2 separate regions of the Homo sapiens genome follow, and region 1 is linked to region 2. Evidence: fine-mapped expression QTL. A gene starts in region 2. The other region holds a variant in brackets. All regions are shown on one strand. Distances are between the middles of the regions.

What was found.
Region 1: its variant is fine-mapped to the expression of PRMT1 in whole blood (INTERVAL, PIP 0.92).

What each region holds. Positions count from the first base shown.
Region 1 is chr19:49,391,550-49,401,539 of GRCh38, reverse strand. It overlaps KASH5 (KASH domain containing 5), which reads right to left. Exons shown (of 20, transcript NM_144688.5): 3 at 6,960-7,064; 4 at 6,248-6,434; 5 at 5,707-5,771; 6 at 3,823-3,889; 7 at 3,397-3,558; 8 at 2,398-2,515; 9 at 2,033-2,083. Among named protein-coding and RNA genes, the nearest start is that of KASH5, 8.3 kb to the right of the region's middle. The variant C/T (reference allele first, on the strand shown) is at 6,393.
Region 2 is chr19:49,671,419-49,681,317 of GRCh38, reverse strand. It overlaps PRMT1 (protein arginine methyltransferase 1), which reads right to left and starts at 4,047. Exons shown (of 11, transcript NM_001536.6): 1 at 4,002-4,047; 2 at 1,393-1,446; 3 at 730-831. The coding sequence starts at 4,037. It overlaps BCL2L12 (BCL2 like 12), which reads right to left. Exons shown (of 7, transcript NM_138639.2): 7 at 7,402-7,620. The coding sequence ends at 7,570. RefSeq lists silencers at 392-556, 403-772, 3,553-3,832 and enhancers at 3,677-4,408, 4,413-4,562, 8,973-9,162, 8,656-9,214.

The DNA of each region.
Region 1 (9,990 bases), 280 kb after region 2:
CATCACGGTGTGAGAATAATAGAGATGCTACTTTCTTGTGAAAGCAAAGAGGCCTCACTGGTGGGTCCTCTCCAGACCTCTGCCCACCCCAGCCCTGTGTCCTCCAGTCTGTCAAGGCCTGGGTGGGGTTTGGGATCCTTCAGGGAAATGAGTGACGGACAGGGACTTTGCTAACAGCTCAGGGAGAACAGAGGAATCTCTCTCCTGTTTCTCTTTCCCCAGAGAAGCCACATCTCCCCACCATGAGCACCCACCCTGGCCTGGGGAAATGAGGCAGGGGCTTTGGGCAGTGACCCCAGCCTCTTCCCTTTCACAGGAAAGTAGCCAAATCACCTCCCTGGCTCTGGAAGGGTGTGGAAGTGGTGGAGTAAGAGTCCCAGCCCAGATAAGGGATCACCACCAGAAGATGAAGAAGATGGTATGTCCAGAGATCCAAAGGCAATGCGGGCCTCACAGTAGATGCCAGCACACAGTGGTGACAAACGCTTGGACAAAACCCATCAATCTCATGAACAGCAGAGAGGAGAAACATTGAGTGAGGATCAGCAGCCTCCTAGAGCACTAGGCTCCTGCATCAGTCTCCTGCAACTTAGATACCACCTTGAGGTCGGGGGTGGTGACAGGTTTCATTGTCAATTGATGAGTTTGTTTCAATCTAAAAAAAATTAGGTGGGCCCAGAATGAACTAAGATGATGTTTTTCTGTCTTGGATGGAACGGGGCTTGAATTAAATGTGAAGCTGAACTCAGTCTCTTCATATTGTTTGCTAGTCCCTCAGTGAAATGCTGTCAATCCTCAAAACAAGCCTACTGAACAGATACCCTTCTTCCAGTTCTTTGAAAATAAAAGTAGGTCAGGTGTGGTGGCTCATGTCTGTAATCCCAGCATTTTGGGAGGCTGAGGTGGGCAGATCACCTGAGGTCGGGAGTTTGAGACCAGCCTGACCAACATGGAAAAACCCCGTCTCTACTAAAACAAACAAACCAACCAACCAACAAAAAAACAAAATTAGCCAGGTGTGGTGGCACATGCCTGTAATCCCAGCTACTTGGGAGGCTGAGGCAGAAGAATCACTTGAACCGGGAGACGGTGGTTGCCATGAGGTAAGATCGCGCCATTCCACTCCAGCCTGGGCAACAAGAATGAAACTCTGTCTCAAAAAAAAAAAAAAGAAAAAAAAAAAAAAGAAACTAAAAGTAAAGGCTTGAGAAGGAGAAGTCACATGCTTAAAGGTTGCCTATTGTGTAAGTGGCGGAGATGGGATTTGAACTCAAGGTTGACTTCAAATCCAATTTTTTTTTTTTTTTTTTTTTTGAGAGGCTCTCGCTCTGTCATCCAGGCTGGAATGCCATGATGCAATCTTGGCTCACTGCAACCTCTGTCTCCCGGGCTCGTGCAGTCTTTCCACCTCAGCCTCCTGAGTGGCTGGACTACAGGTGCACACTACCATGCCTGGCTTATTTTTCTATTTTTTGTAGAGGCAAGGTTTTGCCATGTTGCCCGGGATGGTCTCGAACTCCTAGGCTAAAGGGGTCCACCCAGCTAGGCCTCCCGAAGTGCTGGGATTCCAGGCATGAGCCACTGTGCCTGGCTGTTTTATTCACTGTAAAAAATACTAATATAGAAACAATGCTAGATAACTTTTAGTGAGCACATCCTATGTGTCCTACCTTGTGCCCAAGACTTTGCAAGTATCCTTCGGTTGAAGTCTCACACAAACCACTGAGGCAGATGCCATTGTTTTGTTCATCTTTATAGGTGAGGCAACTGAGGCACAGAGAAGGGAGGCACTGGTCCACTCTTATGTAGGTGGCCTCAGCCTGAAGCCATGTAGGCTGACCCCATGCCTCACACTCTTGTAAACCACGGCTGTTCTCACAGTGTGATATAACCTCAGGGACATTCCCACACTACTGACATTCTGAGGTCTCCCCAAGACAGGCTGCTGGGGTGTTGGGGGCAGAAGGGAGTGGTGTCAAGAAGACCTTAAGGACTGGGGAAGGGGTGGGGGTGGTGCTGGGCCTCCGCTCACCTCCTCCTGCAGAGTCTCCATCTCAGCCACCAGATGCTGCTGCTCCTTTTCCTGACCAACCCCAGAGAGAGGACAAAGGTTTCATTTCTAGCCTCCTTGCCCCCATGTTGCCCTTCTCCCACCCCTGAAAACACAACCAGGGCCTGGGGGAATGGGTCTGGGAAGCCCTGATGGCTCCTGCTGTCTCCTTTGTCATGAGAAGGATGGCAGGTAAGCTTGAAAAAGTCTAGGGTGAGCAGGGCCTGGAGAGAGGGAGAAAGCCAGGTGACCTCTGCCCCTTCCTACTCCATAGTCACACTCTGCCGCCCTGACTCCAGGAAACAAAGAAGAGAGAGGGCACCTTCCTTCCCCTGGGCCAGACCCACCGCCTGCCGGGCTTGGGCCAGAAGGCTGCGATTCTGTTCCTCCAGGCTCCTGGCCAGAGTCTTCAGGTCCTCCAGCTCCTCATCCATGGCCTTGGCAAACTGCAGGGCCTGCTGGGTGCTGAATGCGGGTGGGGGCAGATGAGCCATACGAGAGGGAGGAAGGCAGAGAAGCACAGAGACAGATCCATTCTGAGAGACACTAGCAACAGAGAGATCCCAGGTGGTAGGCAGGGACAGAGACCCAGAGAGAGGGGAGGACAGAGACCCAGAGAGAAAAGAGGAGAAGGAGACCTGGTGTGGGCACAGAGACCCAGTTTTAACCTAAAAGACTGAGGAAGTGGGAAAGAGACCTAGAGAGAGTGGGGGACTAGAACAGGGAGACCACGATAAACATGAAGAATGACAAAGCACAGAGAGATGAAAGGGCGAGTGACATGAAGAATCAGAGAGTTAAAGAATAAAGAGAGAAATCTAGGCTGGGTGCAGTGGCTCAGGCCTGTACTCCCAGCACTTTGGGAGGATAAGGCGGGAGGATGGCTTGAGCCCAGGAGTTTGAGACCAGCATGGGCAACACAGTGAGAACTCATTTCTATAAAAAATAAAACAAAATTAGCCAAGCAGGGTGGTGGGCCTGTGGTCCCAGCTACTTGGGAAGCTGAGGTGGGAGGCTCGCTAGAGCCCAGAGGCGGAGGGTACAGTGAGCTGTGATCACCCCCACTGCACTCCAGCCTGGGTGACAGAGTGAGAACCTGTCTCAAAAAAAAAAAAAAGAGAGAGAGAGAAGTCTGAACCCTCAAGGGAAAGATAAAAAGACCAAAACAGAGGCTGAGAGATAAGAATCAGAGAGACACAAAAGATAAAAACAGAAAAGGGAAAAGAAAGGACAGGTACAGAGTCAAAGAGCAGGATGCAGACACGAGCATGGGAGATAGAGGCCGGCTGCTGCAGGGAGGACGGAGGCAGGGGCGCTGGGGAGGGTGGGTGTGGCATCCAGCCCACCTGTGAAGCTGCTTACGCAGAGCCAAGATCTCCTCCCCAAGGCGTGCTGACCCCTCCTCAGCTGTCTCCATGCTCCGCTGCAATTTGGCATTCTCCCCAACCAGACGTCGGTTGCTGAGCTCCAGGTCCTCCAGGCTGCTCAGCAGGTCAGCTGTGGCTTGTCTAGGGGCAAGGAAGGGGTTCAGGTCACTGTCCACAGCCCCTGACTCATTTCCCCGGGTCGAGGTAGGTGCTGGTGGTGGGGAGATGTGGCTCTTTTGGGGAAAGATAAACAGGAGAGAGACTCCTCTGCTCTCCCTGAACTTTCAGCAAAGCCCCGTCCCTCATTCATTTCCCTGAAGGATCCCAAGCCCTACCCGGGCCTCGGCAGGCTGGAGGGGACAGGGTGTGGGCAGGAGGGTCAGGGAGGGGTGTGAGGATAGGTACAGCTCGGGTCTGGGGTCTTCGCCTCCGAAGCTCTCCAGGTTGGCTGGCTCCTCAGCTTCTGGGCATCCTGGAGGGAGAGAGCCAAGAGAATGTTGGCTTCCCTGGAACCCTTAAACGTAAAGTGCCCCAGGGCTCTGAGGTTGGACTCCATCTGCCTCCACCCTCACCTGTGCTCTGGAGAATCTCATGGGCTTTTGGGGCTGCAGTTATACCCACTGTAAAGCCCTCTTGCTTGTCTTCTACCTTGAGCTCAGGCTGGATCTCCCAGATAACCCTAACTCCCCACATTCTTTACACCCAACACTGGGCAGCACTTCACCTTCCCCTTCCCAGATCCCCCACCGACCACTCAGCCACTGGGCGGACCTGGCTCCCTTGCTCCCTGTCACCCCCAGTCCAGCAGAGCCCAGACTTCTCCCTCCTGCCCCTGACTCTCTGCTCCACCCCTCCTCTCTGTCTCCATGCCCCGGCCCTTGCTTTCTCCTCTTGGATCCTCACCAGAGCCTCTTCTCTGGCCTTCTGGCCTCTAGTCCCTCCTCTGCTTGCAGCCCTCCCTGGGCCCCCAAGCCTGATGAAGGAGGTTGAAGAGAACTTCCTTCCCCACCGTTTTTTGTATGGCTAGAGAAATGGAACATGACCACCATTTTTTTTTTTTTTTTTTAAAAGACAGGATCCTGCTCTATTGCCCAGGCTGGAGTGCAGTGGTGCAATGCATGGCTCACTGCAGCTTTGACCTTTCAGGCTCAAGCGATCCTCCTGACTCAGTGTCCCGGCTAGGACCACAGGTACATGCCACCGCACTCAGCTAATTTTTTATTTTTAGTAGAGATGGTGTCTCACTATGTTGCCCAGGCTGGTCTCAAACTACTGGGCTCAAATGTTCTTTCCACTTTGGCCTTCTAAAATGCTGGGATTACAGGCTCACGCCTGTAATCATGACCACTTTTTTTATGGAGCACCTCCTATGTGTGAGGTCCTGGGGATACAATGGTGAGCAAACCAGCCAACTAAACCCAGGTGCCAGTGGCTAACTAGATAATCAGATTTCCTCTGCAGGTGGATGTTCCAATGGAAAGGCCTACAAGTCTAGGAGTGAGCATGGGGAGCAAGGAACTCTAGCCAGGGGCATACCAGGGCTTCCCCTTTGCCAGAGGAGTGGATGACGGCTTGGCGCAGTGGCTCACGCCTGTAATCCCAGCACTTTGGGAGGCCAAGGCAGTTGGATCACCTGAGGTCGGGAGTTCGAGACCAGCCTGACCAACATGGAGAAACCTCGTCTCTATGAAAAATACAAAATTAGCTGGGCGTGGTGGTGCATGCCTGTAATCCCAGCTATGCGGAAGGCTGAGGCAGAAGAACTGCTTGAACCCAGGAGGCGGGGGTGGCGGTGAGCTGAGATTGCGCCATTGCACAACAGCCTGGGCAACAGGAGTGAAACTCTTATCTCAAAAAAAAAAAAAAAAAAAAAAAAAAAGTCCAGCAGGGTGGGGAGCAAGGAGTGGAGGGGAACAGCCTGAGCAAGGACCTGTGCTGGGCAGAAGTGGGGCACATTCGAGGAAGGGCAGCAAGACCAGTGGGCCTGTGAATTCCTGGACTAGAGTGAGGAGAGGTGATGTTAATGATGGAGCAGAGGTAGGCGGGGCCTCGTAGGCCTCTCTAATAGGGCTGGTGTGAGGAGAACGAGTTGGAAACCACCCTCTGAAGAAAAGAAACCCAAAGCTCACGGAAGGAAGGGACGGAGGACCTAGAAAGCCACACTCACAGCTCTAGTCTACAGTAAAGGTCCCTGGTTCCTACCCTATCCCTTGCTCTGCCCTGGGTGGTAAGTCCCCACACTGTCTGACCCAGGGCCTGCCTGCTTCATTCTATATATAGCAATCTCACCAGATGGCAGTTGCCGGGAGGTCAGGGCTCCCTGGAAGGCGGTCTCCTCTTCCAGCTCTAATCCCCTGTATCAAAGGGATGAGGCTTAGCGCCCCACTGTAGCTGCCCCTCAGTCCTCACCAGCCACAGGCAGGGGGATTGCAGGTGGGAGGAGGGGACCGGGTCAGGTGAGAGCTGGCACCACAGGGTAGGAGGGTGAGGCCAGATGGCAAGTGCCCGTGGCCAGATGGAAAAGCAGGAGGGGCAAGGAGTGGGTTTGGTGAAGGGTTGGGGAGGGACCTCTGTCAGCCCCAAACTCCTCCCTTCTCCAGCCCCATTTTATTTCTGTCTCCCAGACCCCCTCTGCTTCCTCATCCAAATTATTTTGTCCTCAGACTCCCTATCTACCCCCTCTGAATCCCGTCTCTTCATTTTTCTCTCCACAGCCTCATTCCAAACACAGTAGGTCCTTGGGCCTAAAGGATGCTGGCTCCAGTAAGCAGGTATGAGGTTAGATCTTAGGAAGGACTTCCCAGAGGAGGATGAAGATGTGGGGACTCACCCATGTAGTTGACAGGCAGCAATCCAGTCACGCATGACAACCAGGAAAGTGTCCAAGTCCACAGTGGCCTTAGGGCCCTCCCCATTGGGGTCCAGGCTGTTGGCCAATGTTTGGAGGCGTGCATCCTGGGGGCCCTGGCCTGTCA[C/T]AGCCTCCAGGTAGGCCAGCACCTGGGCCACAGCCACAGTGCCTGTGACAGAGCATGCAGTGAGGGGGTCTGGGGCAGGTGGGGAGTGATGGGTATGGACTGGCAGCAGCTTGGGACCAGGATGTCACTGGCTAGGCTGGTGGCACTCCTGCTCCATGGCCCAGTGGAGACACACTGGGCAAGCCCTTTCCCCTCCTCTGAGTCCACTTTTTCACCTGGAAATGGGGCCCAGTCATCCCCCCATCACAGGGTAAACCAAAGGGGATGGACATAGGGACAGCATCAGCCATGCCCCACGCCACCATGGTGGCTGCCTCCCTCCCCTATCCCACGACCCCAAAACTCTGCCCTCTTCCATCAACGTCCCCCAAGTTTTCCTCATTCTAAAAGGCCTTCACCCCATTATCCACGTTCTTCTTCCTGAAGCTTCCCATAATCACCCACTTTGTTCTTACAATACCCCCAAGAGGGGGCCTTAGCCCAGTCTTCTCTCTGAGGCTCCCCAGTTCCCAGCCTCCACCCCATCCTGCCCGCACTGGTCCCCAGCACCCCTCATGCCCCCACCACCTGTCCTCTGAGGGTCACAAGCTTCGAACGTGGAGTTGAGTATTTGCTCCTCCAAGCTGACCGGCATTCCCAGCCTTGCCTCCTCAGGCCGCTCCCGGAGGTACACTGGGGAGACAAGAGGGCTCAGCTCACCAGTGGGAAGAATAAGGAAGGAAGAGGGGTGACCCCAGGTCCTCAGCCTCCTGGGCTCTGTAGCGGGGAGGGAATTCACTCAGAGCACTGAGAGTTCGGGCGGGTGGGGAACAGCAGGAAGCTTCAGGAGGGGGCAACAATGTGAGGGTCTCTGAGTTACTTCCCCCCATCTTTCAAACCAGGAAGTCCCCCCTGCTGTCTTTTTGTGTCCAATTGGCTTAGGAGCCCAGAGAAGAACGCTCTGAGATCACCCTTTCCTCCTCTCCTCTCCAGCCTCCCAGGCTGGACTCAGAGAGGGACAGGGTCGGGGAGGGCAAAGAAGAGAGGATTCTGGGAGGAGCTGAGAGTGAAGGGGGGGCCCAGGAGCCAGGAACAATCCAATAATGCATGGGCAGCCCAGATCGATCCCGCCTGCTGCATCTCCGGTCTCCCAGCCCACCCTGGGGACCAGGTCTCTCTCCTCCCTGCATCCCTAAGGCAAGGGTGGCATCATTGGAGCCCATGGCCAGGGGCTGAGACATGAAGGGATAGGGTAAACCAGACAGGGTGGGCAGTGAGGGAATGGTTATGAGCTGGATCAGTGTGTCAGACCTGGGTGCAGAGTCCAGCTGCACATCTGTGGGCAAGTCTCTTCTGTTAGAGCCTCGGTTTCCCTACTGGGGGGGTGGGTAGAGTGATCCTCCTCACCAGGGCTGAGTTAGCTCTGTGTATGTGAAGCACACGCATGTACACACACACACACACACACACACACACACACACACACGTCCTGGGGTCTATTTGTCTACTGTTGTAGCCACAACACCTGCAGATGGCAGGTGCTCAACAAATGCTCCATGACATAGGAAGAGATCCTCAACTGCAGGAGCCACTGGGCTGGCCCAGCCTCTCTCCCAGGGCTGGAAGTGAACTTCTAGGCTCCCTGCCCTGGCCTTGAACAGCTGGGTGCAGCAGCTCACTGAGCACAGGCTGCAGGACGGGGTAGATCCAGGGGGCAACCGAGGCTTGGCCTCAGACAAGTGGTGGCACCTGGGGCAATGGACTCAACTTCTCTTGGGCCTCAGTTTCTTCCTCTGGAAAATGGGGTTGGTGTTACCTCTTTCCTAGAGAGAAAATGAGATACAATCTAGAAAGGCTTTGGCAGAAGGCCTGGCACGTGGTGGGGACTCAAGAATAGAATTGAACACTTATTGAGCATTTAGTAGGTGCCAGGCCTTTTCTGAGCACTTTACATGAACTGTCTACTAGCATAATAATAATCGATGCTATTATAATCCCTACTTTACAAATGAGGGGACTAAGGCATAGAGAAACTAAGAACTCGCCAAAGGTCACCCTGTTTAACATATGAGTCAACTTTCTCATCCCTCTAACTCTTCCAGGATTCTCTGCAGTGAGTGAAATTTGCACCCCCTCTGTCTTGAACCTATGCTCCTAGGTTTGGCCCTTGGGAAGGGGCGTGTGGACTCACAGTTAGGGGGAGACCAGGGCTTTAGCCCCAGTCTGTTTTCCTCCTCTCACTGTTTTTTTTTTTTTTGAGATGGAGTCTCGCTGTGTCACCCAGGCTGGAGTGCAGTAGCGTGATCTCCGCTCACTGCAACTTCTGCCTCCAAGGTTCAAGCAATTCTCCTGCGTCAGCCTCCCGAGTAGCTGGGATTACAGGTGCCTGCTACCAGGCCCAGCTAATTTTTGTATTTTTAGTAGAGATGGGGTTTCACCCTGTTGGCAAGGCTGGTCTCGAACTCCTGACCTCAAGTGATCCGCCCACCTTGGCCTCGCAAAGTGCTGGGATTACAGGTGTGAGCCACCATACCCAGCCCTCTCAGTGTCTTTCTCATGTTACATGAACGAGGACCCTGAGGCCCAATGAGATGGTTCACCCAGGGCTGCTTGCCAGAGAGAGCTAAGCTGGGAATAGAACTCAGGACTGGCATCAGGTCGTGCTGGCTCTGAGGATCAGCATGTGTCTGAAGTCGCATCCCAGGATTCCCCCAGGGAGATGTCATTTCTGTTCCTCAGGAAGATCTCCTTCCTCAGTGTCTCTATCTCCTCTATGTCTCTGTCCTTGCCTCTTCGTTACATTTCTCTTTGGCTCTTTCTCTCTATCTTTCTCCCAGTCTCTCTTCCCCACGTCCTGTCTCTCTGCCTCCATGTCGCTTGTCCCCGTTTTCTTCCCTGTATCTCAGTCTCTGTGCTTCCCTTCCCATATCTCAGAGACTCTCCATTCCCTAAGTCTTCTCTTTCCTTCCTCTGCTGTTTCTTTTTCCCTTTGCCTTCCTCTGTCTCCATCTCTCCTTCTGGGTGTGTTCCTACCTTTCCTTCCAGAGCCTCTCGAAGCTGTCTCAGCCCTTGCCACCCGGATCCTGGTGGCTGCACGCCCTCTGCTGGTGCAGGTGAAGTTTAGATGGCTGTCACTAGACAGCCTGTCCTCTGGTTCCCACACCCTGGTGTCTACCTCTGACCCTCCTATCTGGAAAGCCTCCTGAGGTCTGGGGCTTTGTAGAAAAAGACGCAGGCTGTGCCGTGGATGCCTGGGAGCCTCTAAGAAAGGGGCCCTACCATCCCCATCAGACTGGGCTCTCTCACTTGGCAGATGAGTTTCAGAGAGGCAACCCCAGTGCCTCCTCCCCACCCTCTGAAGCCAGCTTTCACACCCGTTCAACCTACATCCGTCCGTTCACTCAACAGTAAGTGAGCTCCCACAGTGAGTCAGGAGTTGCTCTGGGGTCCCAGCCAACAGGGCAGTCTCTCCTTCTGGAGCACCTGAACTGAGGCGAGTGTAGACTGAAATGCTCTGTTAGTGTAAAGTACACGCTAGATCTTTAGGGCTTAGTATGAAAAAAACAGATTATCTGGATACATTTTTTATATTGGCTATATATTGGCTATATACATATAT
Region 2 (9,899 bases):
CAGCACCTCAGGAGGCCAAAGCCGGAGGATCACTTGATCCCAAGAGTTTGAGACCAGCCTGGGCAACAAGGCAAGATTATCTCTACAGAAAAATAAGAACATCAGCTGGGCGTGGTGGCGCGCGCCTGTGGTCCCAGCTACTCCGAAAGTGGAAGTGGGGGGATCACCTGAGCCGGGGAGGTCGAGGCTGCAGTGAGCCATGATTGCACCAATGCACTCTAGCCTGGGCGACAGAGCGAGACCGTCTCTAAAAATAAAAAATGGCAATTTTATGCATATTTTGCCACAATTTTATGAAAAAGGCCTCAGGGGGAAAAGAAAATTCCTTAGAATGCCACCCCAGCTTCGTTCTGGGATTTCAGTGTCTTCAGTCAGATCTGAAGTGTGCAGAAGCTGTTAGGGCGGGAGCAGCCGGGGCGCAGTCCCACCGCCGGTCACTAGAGGGCGGCAGAGACCAGTGGGCCCTGCCCGACCTCTGGCTAAGGCCCCAGGCACGCATGCGCTCTCCCACCCCAGCCTTCGGCGCGAGGCCCCTGCAGAGATTCAGGCTAACCTCGGTCTCCAAGGCAACGGCTTGGCGAGGCGACCCTAGGAAGTGCGCAGCAGAGGGGCAGGGGGGCGGCCTGCGGCCAGGGGAAGCAGTGCGCATGCGTGGGAAAACAGGTTCCACCCCTTCCCCAACATTTAAGCCCCCCTAAGATTGGGGCCTTGGGGACTGTCCCCACTGACCTCGTGGATGCCAAAGTGTGCGTAGGAGTCAAAGTAGTAATCTTTGGATGTCATGTCCTCAGCGTTGGGCTTCTCACTGCTTTCCGCCTGGCCACAGGACACCTGGGAGGGGGCCGATGGGATCATGGGTCAGATCTGGGGGCTCCCCACAGCCTCTTAAACCTCCAGCGCCCTACTTTTCCCTGAAGAGTAGTATAGAACCCCCAAAATCATACCATGACAACCCTACAGCCCCCGCCTGCCATCTTGCCCCCCCAGGAACCCCAAAACCTAACAACCCCATTTTCCACTTCCAGGACCCCCCCAGAGCACCATCCAGGGGAGCACCCCGATACCTCAGCCACGCCTACCATCTCTCCAGTCTCTCTGACCCCGTCTCTAGCTCAGCCCACAGCTGGGGAGGGGAGGGGAAGGAAAATGGGGGCAGACACAGGGAAGGGCAAAGGGGGGTTGGAGGTGGAGTTAAGGAAGTAGCGGCGATACTGGGGGAGGCCAGCGGGGGCTGTGAACCTGGAGGGGTTGCTACTAAGTGTCTGGGGGCCTGGGGTAAACTGGTTTGAAGCAAGAGGGGTATGGTTAGACCTCAAGAAAGGGCCAGATGTGTGGCAAGATATATTGATGTGGAGGTCAGGGTGGGGAGGGGTCTCACAAAAGGATATTTACTTCTTCAAGAGGCGGCTGGAGGCTCATCCCATTAGCCAAGGTGGCTACAAAATTCTAGGAGAGAGTAACAGGGAAAAAGGATTAGCTACTGGGAGTGGCTGTGGGAGGGCTGGGTGGCGGAACCTGGGCTCTGGCCGGGGGGTGGGTTTCCAGCAATTCTCCTTCTTGGTGGGGAGTGGTGGCGAAGGGGGCAAGTAATGAGGTGGGGTGTTTAAGAAAGGGTGGGAAAAGTGAGGGGAGAAGAAAGGGGGGTCTCCTATCCCAGCTGTGGCTGGAGAGATGGTGGCCCACCCCCACGCTGCCCCTCTCTGGCCAGGCAGCTGACCACACACCTCCCCCATCCAGGCCAGGGGAATTGGCACCCACCACCGCCAGCTGTCGCTCCCTCTCATCACCTAATCTCCTCCAGATTAGGTGACACTTCCTGACACACACACCCCTATCCTAGGGTGCCATGAATAGCAGAAGGGAGCGGGGCTGGCAGGATATGCCCACAGGGCATCTGCCACCTCTGCAAACCAGTCTCATGTCTGAGAGGATTCCAGAATAGAGGTGTGGCACACGGGTACTTCCCCAGAGCTAGTACCCCAGACCCCAGCTCCTGCCTTGGACTCAGGAGCCCCAAACAAAACCAGCTGGAACCAACCCCCTCCCTTATGACCCTCTGCCCACGAAGGTAGGGTCCCAGGGAAGATGGGCAGCTCCTGGACCCTCTAAGAATGAGAGGACTCCAGAAAGTGGCTTGGGGGCACGGTGGCTCACACCTGCAATCCCGGCACTTTGGGAGGCCGAGGCAGGTGGGTCACCTGAGGTCAGGAGTTTGAGACCAGCCTGACCAACATGGTGAAACCCTATCTCTACTAAAAATACAAAAATTAGCTGGGCCTGGTGGCGGGTGCCTGTAATCCCAGCTACTCAGGAGGCTGAAGCAGGAGAATCGCTTGAACCCGGGAGGCGGAGGTTGCAATGAGCCGAGATCAAGCCATTGCACTCCAGCCTGGGTGACAGAGTAAGACTCCGTCTCAAAAAAAAAAAAAAAAAAAGTGGCTTGGGGAGTCAGGCCATCGCCCCCATTCAGACACCCATCCCAGGCCCTGAAGACTTCCAGGTGCGGCCAAGCCTGAGGCCACCTCTGGGAAAGTTATTTCCTCCATCCATAGAGCCCCAGGTGCAGGAGACAGCCAAGAGGGTGGGAAGTCATTACAGTGACCCCTGGGAGCTGCATCCTGACAGCTGAGAGCTGACCTGCCCCTCCAGCCAATGCCATAGGTAAGGGGTGGAAGGACAGAGGCCCCATCAGATTACATCTCTTCCAGATGTGACCACTATCCAAGTCTCCAAGAAGGGCCACGTCACAGGCCATGACCTACTAGGCTCCAAGCACCCTCCCTCCAGCTCTCCCAAGCTAGCGGGGATGCCTATAAGAAGAAAGGTGCTGAGGGGGTTTCCCACTCGGGCCTATTTCTCAATACCACTGAAAACTACCGCCAGACAACCCCAGCCCCAGAGGGCTTGAAACGCAAGACTGAAACCTCCCCCACATGGCTGCACGAGAACCAAACCTCACTCGAAACCATTTCAGGCACCCACTCTCAGGACCCCAGGGCTCAGGACCCTGCACAGGGCTTCAGGAAGAAGGAGGTCATCTCGCACCCTCACAAAGACCCGGGGGAGATAAACGGCTCCAGTAGGGTAAAGCTCTCAGCCTACATATTTCCCACAACTCCTTCCCAGCGGACATACCCTCCTCCCTCCGCCCGCCAGGAAGAAATCCGAGGGGAGGTGGGCTTCAGGACACGCCCCATGAAAAAGATGTCCCTCCCACACACCCAGAAATGGCCACAAGGGGGTGCACGGCGCCTATTAATGGGAAAATCTCTATCTAGATGCCCCACCACCACCCAGAGGGAGGTCACAGGGGCATGCCCCATCCCCCAACTCCTAAAGCCCTGGGCGAGGGGGAGAATTCTGGGAGGGGAAACGGGGTCGGCGGGGGACCCCATTCTTGGTTTTCCTCCAGTCCCTAACCCAGAACGCACAAAACCGGGTCCGATATCCCAACAGATGCCCCCGGAGCTCGGAAGGAGGTTGGTAAAGGGCTGAGAAGCACTGCTCCTCCCAAGAGACTCCCCACATCGTGGAGGGCCCCAGGTCGATCACACCCCACGGCGTGTGCCCAGGTCCCCGGGGAGGAGGGCTGGGGGCGTCAGGAGGGTCGGACCCCCTCCCCGCCCCCCTGGGCGCCCCTCCCCGGCCGGGGGCGGGGCCTTTGTCCCGCACGTGGAGCCCGCCGGGCCACTGGACTCGGCACACCCCCTCCCCACCCACCGCGCAGCGGCCACGTGGGGGCCTGGCCGGAAGCGCCCCCAGCCCTCCTCCACGTGGGAGGGGGGATAAGACCCTCCGCTAGGCCGGATGCCGAAGGCCCTTGGAAGCTAGGGAGCCGTCACCTCAAACGATATCCCCGGATGTGGAACGTGCGGCGCCCCCGTGTGCGGCGGGGGACCTCCAACCCCATATCGCCAACTTAGAGCCCTTTCCCCACCACAGAGGCGTGAAACACCGACCCAAAGCCGCCTCCCGCCCACGGCGGCGCTCCAAGCGCTCACCTCCATGATGCAGTTCGCGGCCTCGGCTGCCGCCATCTTCACCCGCACCTACTCCTCCTCCGGCCGCCAAGACCCCCCCTTTCTCCTCACTCCCCCGGGACCGCCTTATACCAGAGGGTCCACGGCCCGCCTACCGCGACCCCGCTGGAAGATTTCATTGGCAATGGAGGCGGCCCGTCTGAGAATACCGTCTAGTAATTGGCTAGAGAATACGTCCATCATAGGTCAGGGGTTTGCCAACTCTGGCGTCCAGAATCCCGCCCCCTCAAGTCGACCCGGGATGGGGAAAACTGCCCGTCTATTGCAAGAAGCGCGACTGGTGATTGGGCAAAATCCACCAGGAATGCCCTCCCCTTTACACCCAGCACCGCCTCAAAGCTTCCCGGGGAGCCCCGCGCTAAAGGGGCGTCTTGAAACACCTGTCCATCACCAAAACGACCCGCCTCCTAATCGCTGCCATTGGTTTATCCGGAAGCGACGTCACGCAGCCTTTGGCCCACCCTCGCCAAGCGGCCGGCCTCAAGGAGAACACGGCAATTGGCCCACGGGTAGGGAAGAAGGCGGGGCTTCAGGCACCAACGATTGGCTCAAAGGAATTATCACTCCTCGTCCACTCGGTGGATCCTCCCAACCCGGGGGGAGTCTGGAGGAAAAAGGGAGCTTGTGCTCATTACCTGGGGGAAAAACGGAATCGGTGAGAGGCCCAGAGAGAGGAAGGGCATAGCTGGGGTCCCGAAGCAAGTGAGGAATAGGAGTCCGTCGTCAACACATTAAATCCCTAGCCCTTGACATAATCATTCCAAGTTTTTTAAAACCATCAACCCCTCTCAAGCCACTTGGTTTTTGCCAAGTCCCTCCCCCTGCCAGGAACGCCCACCTCTCTTTGTCTGGTCAGCTTCTAAACGTGAATCAGAGCACAGCTTAGGCACCACTTCCTCCGGGAAGCTTTCCTTGATTTGCAGAAAAAGTTCCTAGTTGAATGAAGCTGAATGCAAAGGGCCGAATGCGTGGGTCCTGCCCCTCCTCTCCCCGATCCCTCTACTTCCCTCTGCTCACACTTCTCTCCAATCCCGGAATGAGCTCGCTCTTTGGTTTCTGGGCCTCCGCGCAGGCTATACTCTCTGGCGTGCCGCTGGCAAACGCCTGAGACTTAAAATTTACAATAGGGTTCGGGCGCGATGGCTCACGGGTGTAATTCCAGCACTTTAGGAGGCGGAGGCAGGCGGATCACTTGACATCAGGAGTTCGAGACCAGTCTGGGCAACATGGTGAAACCCCCATTTCTATTAAAAATACAAAAATTACGCCAGGCGGCCGGGCGCGGTGGCTCACGCCTGTAATCCCAGCATTTTGGGAGACCGAGGCGGGCGGATCACAAGGTCAGGAGGTCGAGACCATCCTGGCTAACATGGTGAAACCCCCGTCTCTACTAAAAATACAAAAAATTAGCCGGGCGTGGAGGCTTAGGCAGGAGGATGGCGTGAACCCGGGAGGCGGAGCTTGCAGTGAGCTGAGATCGCGCCACTGCACTCCAGCCTGGGTGACAGAGCGAGACTCTTGTCTCAAAAAAAAAAAAAAAAAAAATTTGGCCGGGCGCGGTGACTCACGCCTGTAATCCCAGCATTTTGGAAGGCTGAGGTGGGCGGATCACAAGCTCAGGAGTTCGAGACCAGCCTAGCCAATATGGTGAAACCCCCGTCTCTACTAAAAAAACAAAAATTAGCCGGGTGTGGTGGTGGGCGCCTGTAGTCCCAGCTGCTCCAGAGGCTGAGGCAGGAGAATCACGTGAACCCGGGAGGCAGAGGTTGCAGTGAGCTGAGATGGTGCCACTGCACTCCAGCCTAGGCGACACAGCGAGACTCCATCTCAAAAAATAATAAAATAAATAAAAATAAAAATAAAAAAATTAGCCAGGACTGGTGGCACACGCCTGTAATCCCAGCTACTTGGGAGGCTGAGGCAGGAGAATCGCTTGAGCTCAGGAGGTGGAGGTTGCAGTGAGCCAGGATGAAGCCATTGCACTCCAGCTCGAGCGACAGACCGAGACTCTAACTTTAAAAAAAAAAAAAAAAATTGAAAAGCATGGCACTAAACAAACCAAGAAAAGGACATTTGTTTCCAGTGTTTGAGCTGAAGCAAGAGGAGCCCAGCTGCAAATATGCACATCAGGTCTTTAGCTTGTTGCAGCTCTGTGCATAAGCATTGCCCTCCAAAACACCACAAAAGCACTGCCTTAATTTTTGGGGTATGAATACATTGTAGCAAGGATGCAAATTTGCAAATAATCTACAAATACTGAGGATCAACTGTAATTGGTTCGGTTTGTAATCCTGTACATTTCACTTATTAATTTACAAACATTACTCTGTGAAGGGGGATATGGCCCTATAAAGGAGACAAACCGCCCAGGCACAGTGACTCATGCCTGTGATCCCAGGACTTTGGGATGCCAAGGTAGGAGGATCACTTGAGCCCAGGAGGTGGAGACCAGCCTGGGCAACATAAGGGAGACCCCATTTCTACAATTTTTTTTTTTTTGAGACGGAGTCTCGCTCTGTTGCCCAGGCTGGAGTGCAGTGGCGTGATCTCAACTCACTGCAACCTCTTGCCTCCCGGGTTCAAGCGAGTCTCGTGCCTCAGCCACCCAAGTAGCTGGGATTACAGGCACCCACCACCATGCCCGGCTAATTTTTGTATTTTTAGTAGAGATGGGGTTTCACCATGTTGGCCTGGCTGGTCTTGAACTCCTGACCTCAAGTGATCCACCTGCCTTGGCCTCCCATAAAAATTCTTTTTTAAAAATTAGCTAGGCGTCGTGTCGCATGCCTTTAGTTCCAGCTACTAGAGAGGCTGAAGTGGGAGGATCACTTGAGCCCAGGAGGTTGAGGCTGCAGTGAGCCATGATAGTGCCACTGTATCTATATAACAGTGCAAGTATAGGCAACAGAGCAAGACCCTATCTCCAAAAAAAAAGGGAGAGTGGGGGGTGTGTGTGAGACAAACCACTGGTCTGTAGGTAGATGAGAAACCAGCAAGAGAGACTTGAAAGGAGCAATGGGAGGAGAAAAACAAGAAGAGGGTGGTGTCCTAGACACAGGTGAAGTTAGACTGTACCTTTCTGTGGAATTCACTGGAAAGACTCCATGACCATCATACAGCATTAGCTAGAATAACCAGATCGTGCAATAGGAAAAAAAAATGCAAGTTGCTGGAATATTTACAGGTATTCTCTCAAATATGTTACATGTCCAGGAGACAGGCTCTTGTAGGTGCTGCAAATAAATATTTCTAGAATGAATGAACTGGTTCTTTCCTCAATTTGCGTAAGCCACAGAAATCTCTGAACCAAATCTCCTCTCCTTAAAACTTTAGTTCCCAAGTGTAAGAACAGACAATTGAATACTTTGTAACGTTTTTAATAAGAAAAGTTTTAAACAATTTATTTTTGGCAAAAACAGGTAGGGCAACCACCACCCCACAGCCCTGAGTGGAATAGGAAGACTTGGAAAAGCACACGAAGAGGGCAGGGACATGAGGTGTCATCTTGTAGCAGCTTCTGAGAAAGAGCTCAGTCCAATGGCAAGTTCAAGTCCACGGGTGAAACAGCCAGGATGCCCTCCTGGAAGGGAAAAGTGGCAGAGCCCTGTGAGCAGGGCAGGTGTTCCCCCCATACAGCAGCGTCCACATCAGCCCTGTGAGATTAGAGACGGGAAGGCGAGGAACCAGAGAGCGGAGGGTGACAGACACCCAGACAAGGGGACAGAGACCCAGACAGAAGGGCACAGGGATGAGGGGGCAGGGTCCTAGCAGGAGGAGGAAAGGTTGAGCTCGAGGAGGGTCAGGACACTGGAGTGGGATTAGACAGAGATCCAGAGAGAGTGAAGAGTTGGGGGACAGAGTCAGAGATGGGGAAGAGAGTCTTGGGATTTGAACAATTCAGAGTCGTGGCTTTGTGTACAAATCCAGATTCCAACACTCTGCATGCTGGGGACTTTTCCTCTCTGCCCCCACAAGACGAGGACAATAAGAGCCCCATGAGGTTGTAGTGGGTTTAAATGGGATCATTCCATTGAAATCCCTAGCAGAGGACCTGGCCCACCGAGAAAACTCATCTGCTATCAATCCTACTTTAAAAAAATTTTTTAAGAAATTGTCCAGGCGTGGTAGCTCAGCCTGTAATTCCAGCACTTTGGGAGGCCGAGGTGGGTGGATCACTTGAGGCCAAGAGTTCGAGACCAGCCTGGCCAACAGGGCAAAACCCCGTCTCTGCTAAAACTACAAAATTAGCCGGACATGGTGGTGTGCGCCTGTAACCCCAGCTACTCAGGAGGCTGAGGCAGGGAATCGCTTGAACCCAGGAGGTGGAGGTTGCAGTGAGCCAAGGTCGTGCCACTGCACTCCAGTCTGGGCAATAGAGTGAGACTCCATCTGAAAAATTAAAATAAAATAAAATAAACGAGCTTCTTTGCTGAGCCCAACACTTATATCCATTCCCCTCAACATGTGCTATGAGTTCTGATCTTACTGTAGACCGGACCACCTCCAGTCCTGCTCCCCACCCCCATCGCCCCCATCCCCACACCTTCCCCATCTCGGGGAACTTAAGATGTCGCCCTGCAGCTGCTCGGGCCAGCATCCTTTAGTCTGTCCCCACATCTGGCCCATTAGCCAAATCTGTCAGCTTCACCGCTAAGTTAAATCCAGCATTCTCCACCGCCCCCGACTTGGGTGAGATCCACTCACCTCCTCCCTGTGCCCCTACTTCTGCCCTCGCCCCCAGCAGTCTGTCCCCAGGCAGCCGCCAGAGGGCGCCCATTAGCGCCTAAATCAGCGCCTGTCCCTCCGCTGCTCAGAGACCTTGGCTTACCCAGAGTCAAAGTCCGAGTTGTCACTCACCGTGACCACAGGGTCCTGGCTGGCCCGGCGCCTCTCCTCCTCTCATCTGTCGCCCGCTCACCCTACTGTAGCCCTACTGGCCTCCTCCTCCCTGCTCCTCAAACACACTTGACCAGCTCCTGCCAGGGAAACCGGTTCCATCCAGAGCCTGGCTTGTGTCCCTCTCTCAGTGAATACCCACAGCGACCCCCCAAGGCAGGTAAATGAGACGGTGCTCACTGGACCAGTGGGGAGAGTGCCGCTCAGGGAGACTGCGACAGTCGCCAAGCCACAGGGCCAGCACGCTGGAGCCCAATCCAACTCTGAAACCGGCACTGGAGATAAAGTAAGAAAAGGAGAGGGGAAGACTTCTGGGTCTCCTGAAGCTGATGTGTTAGAGGTGGGAGACACCAACAAAGAAAAATAAACCAGAAGACAAGTAAAACAAGTCAATTCCACCATCTGTTGGAAGGCCCAAAGTGCTATGGAAGGAAAAGTAAAGCAGGAAGGGGGAAGGAGGGCGGTGGGAGGGTGTGCAGGTGGCTGTGATTGTCAATGGGGACCTGGGAAGGCCTCGTTGGGGGTGAAACCAGAGCCCACCAGAAGGAGCAGGACGGAGGCAGGGGGTTCCCCGGGAGGGCATCCTGGCAGGCACTGTTGGAAAGGCAGCAGGTAGCCATATAACCTCACCAACAAAATGCCTGCATGCCAGGCAGTGCACAGAGGGCTTACCACATTGACCCCATTTTAACCCTCAGAGCGACCCTTTGAGGTAGCACTACTACTCTCACTATTTTATTTTTTGAGACAGGGTCCCACTCTGTCACCCACACTGGAGTACAGTGGCGCAATCATAGCTCACCACAGCCTTGAACTCCTGGGCTCAAGTGATCCTCCCGGCTCCTCTGCCTCCTGAGTAGCTGGGAGTAAACGTGTGAGCTACCATGCTTTGCTAATTATTATTAATTTTAAAAATTTTTATTTATTTATTTTTTGAGACAGAGCCCCGCTCTTGTTGCCCAG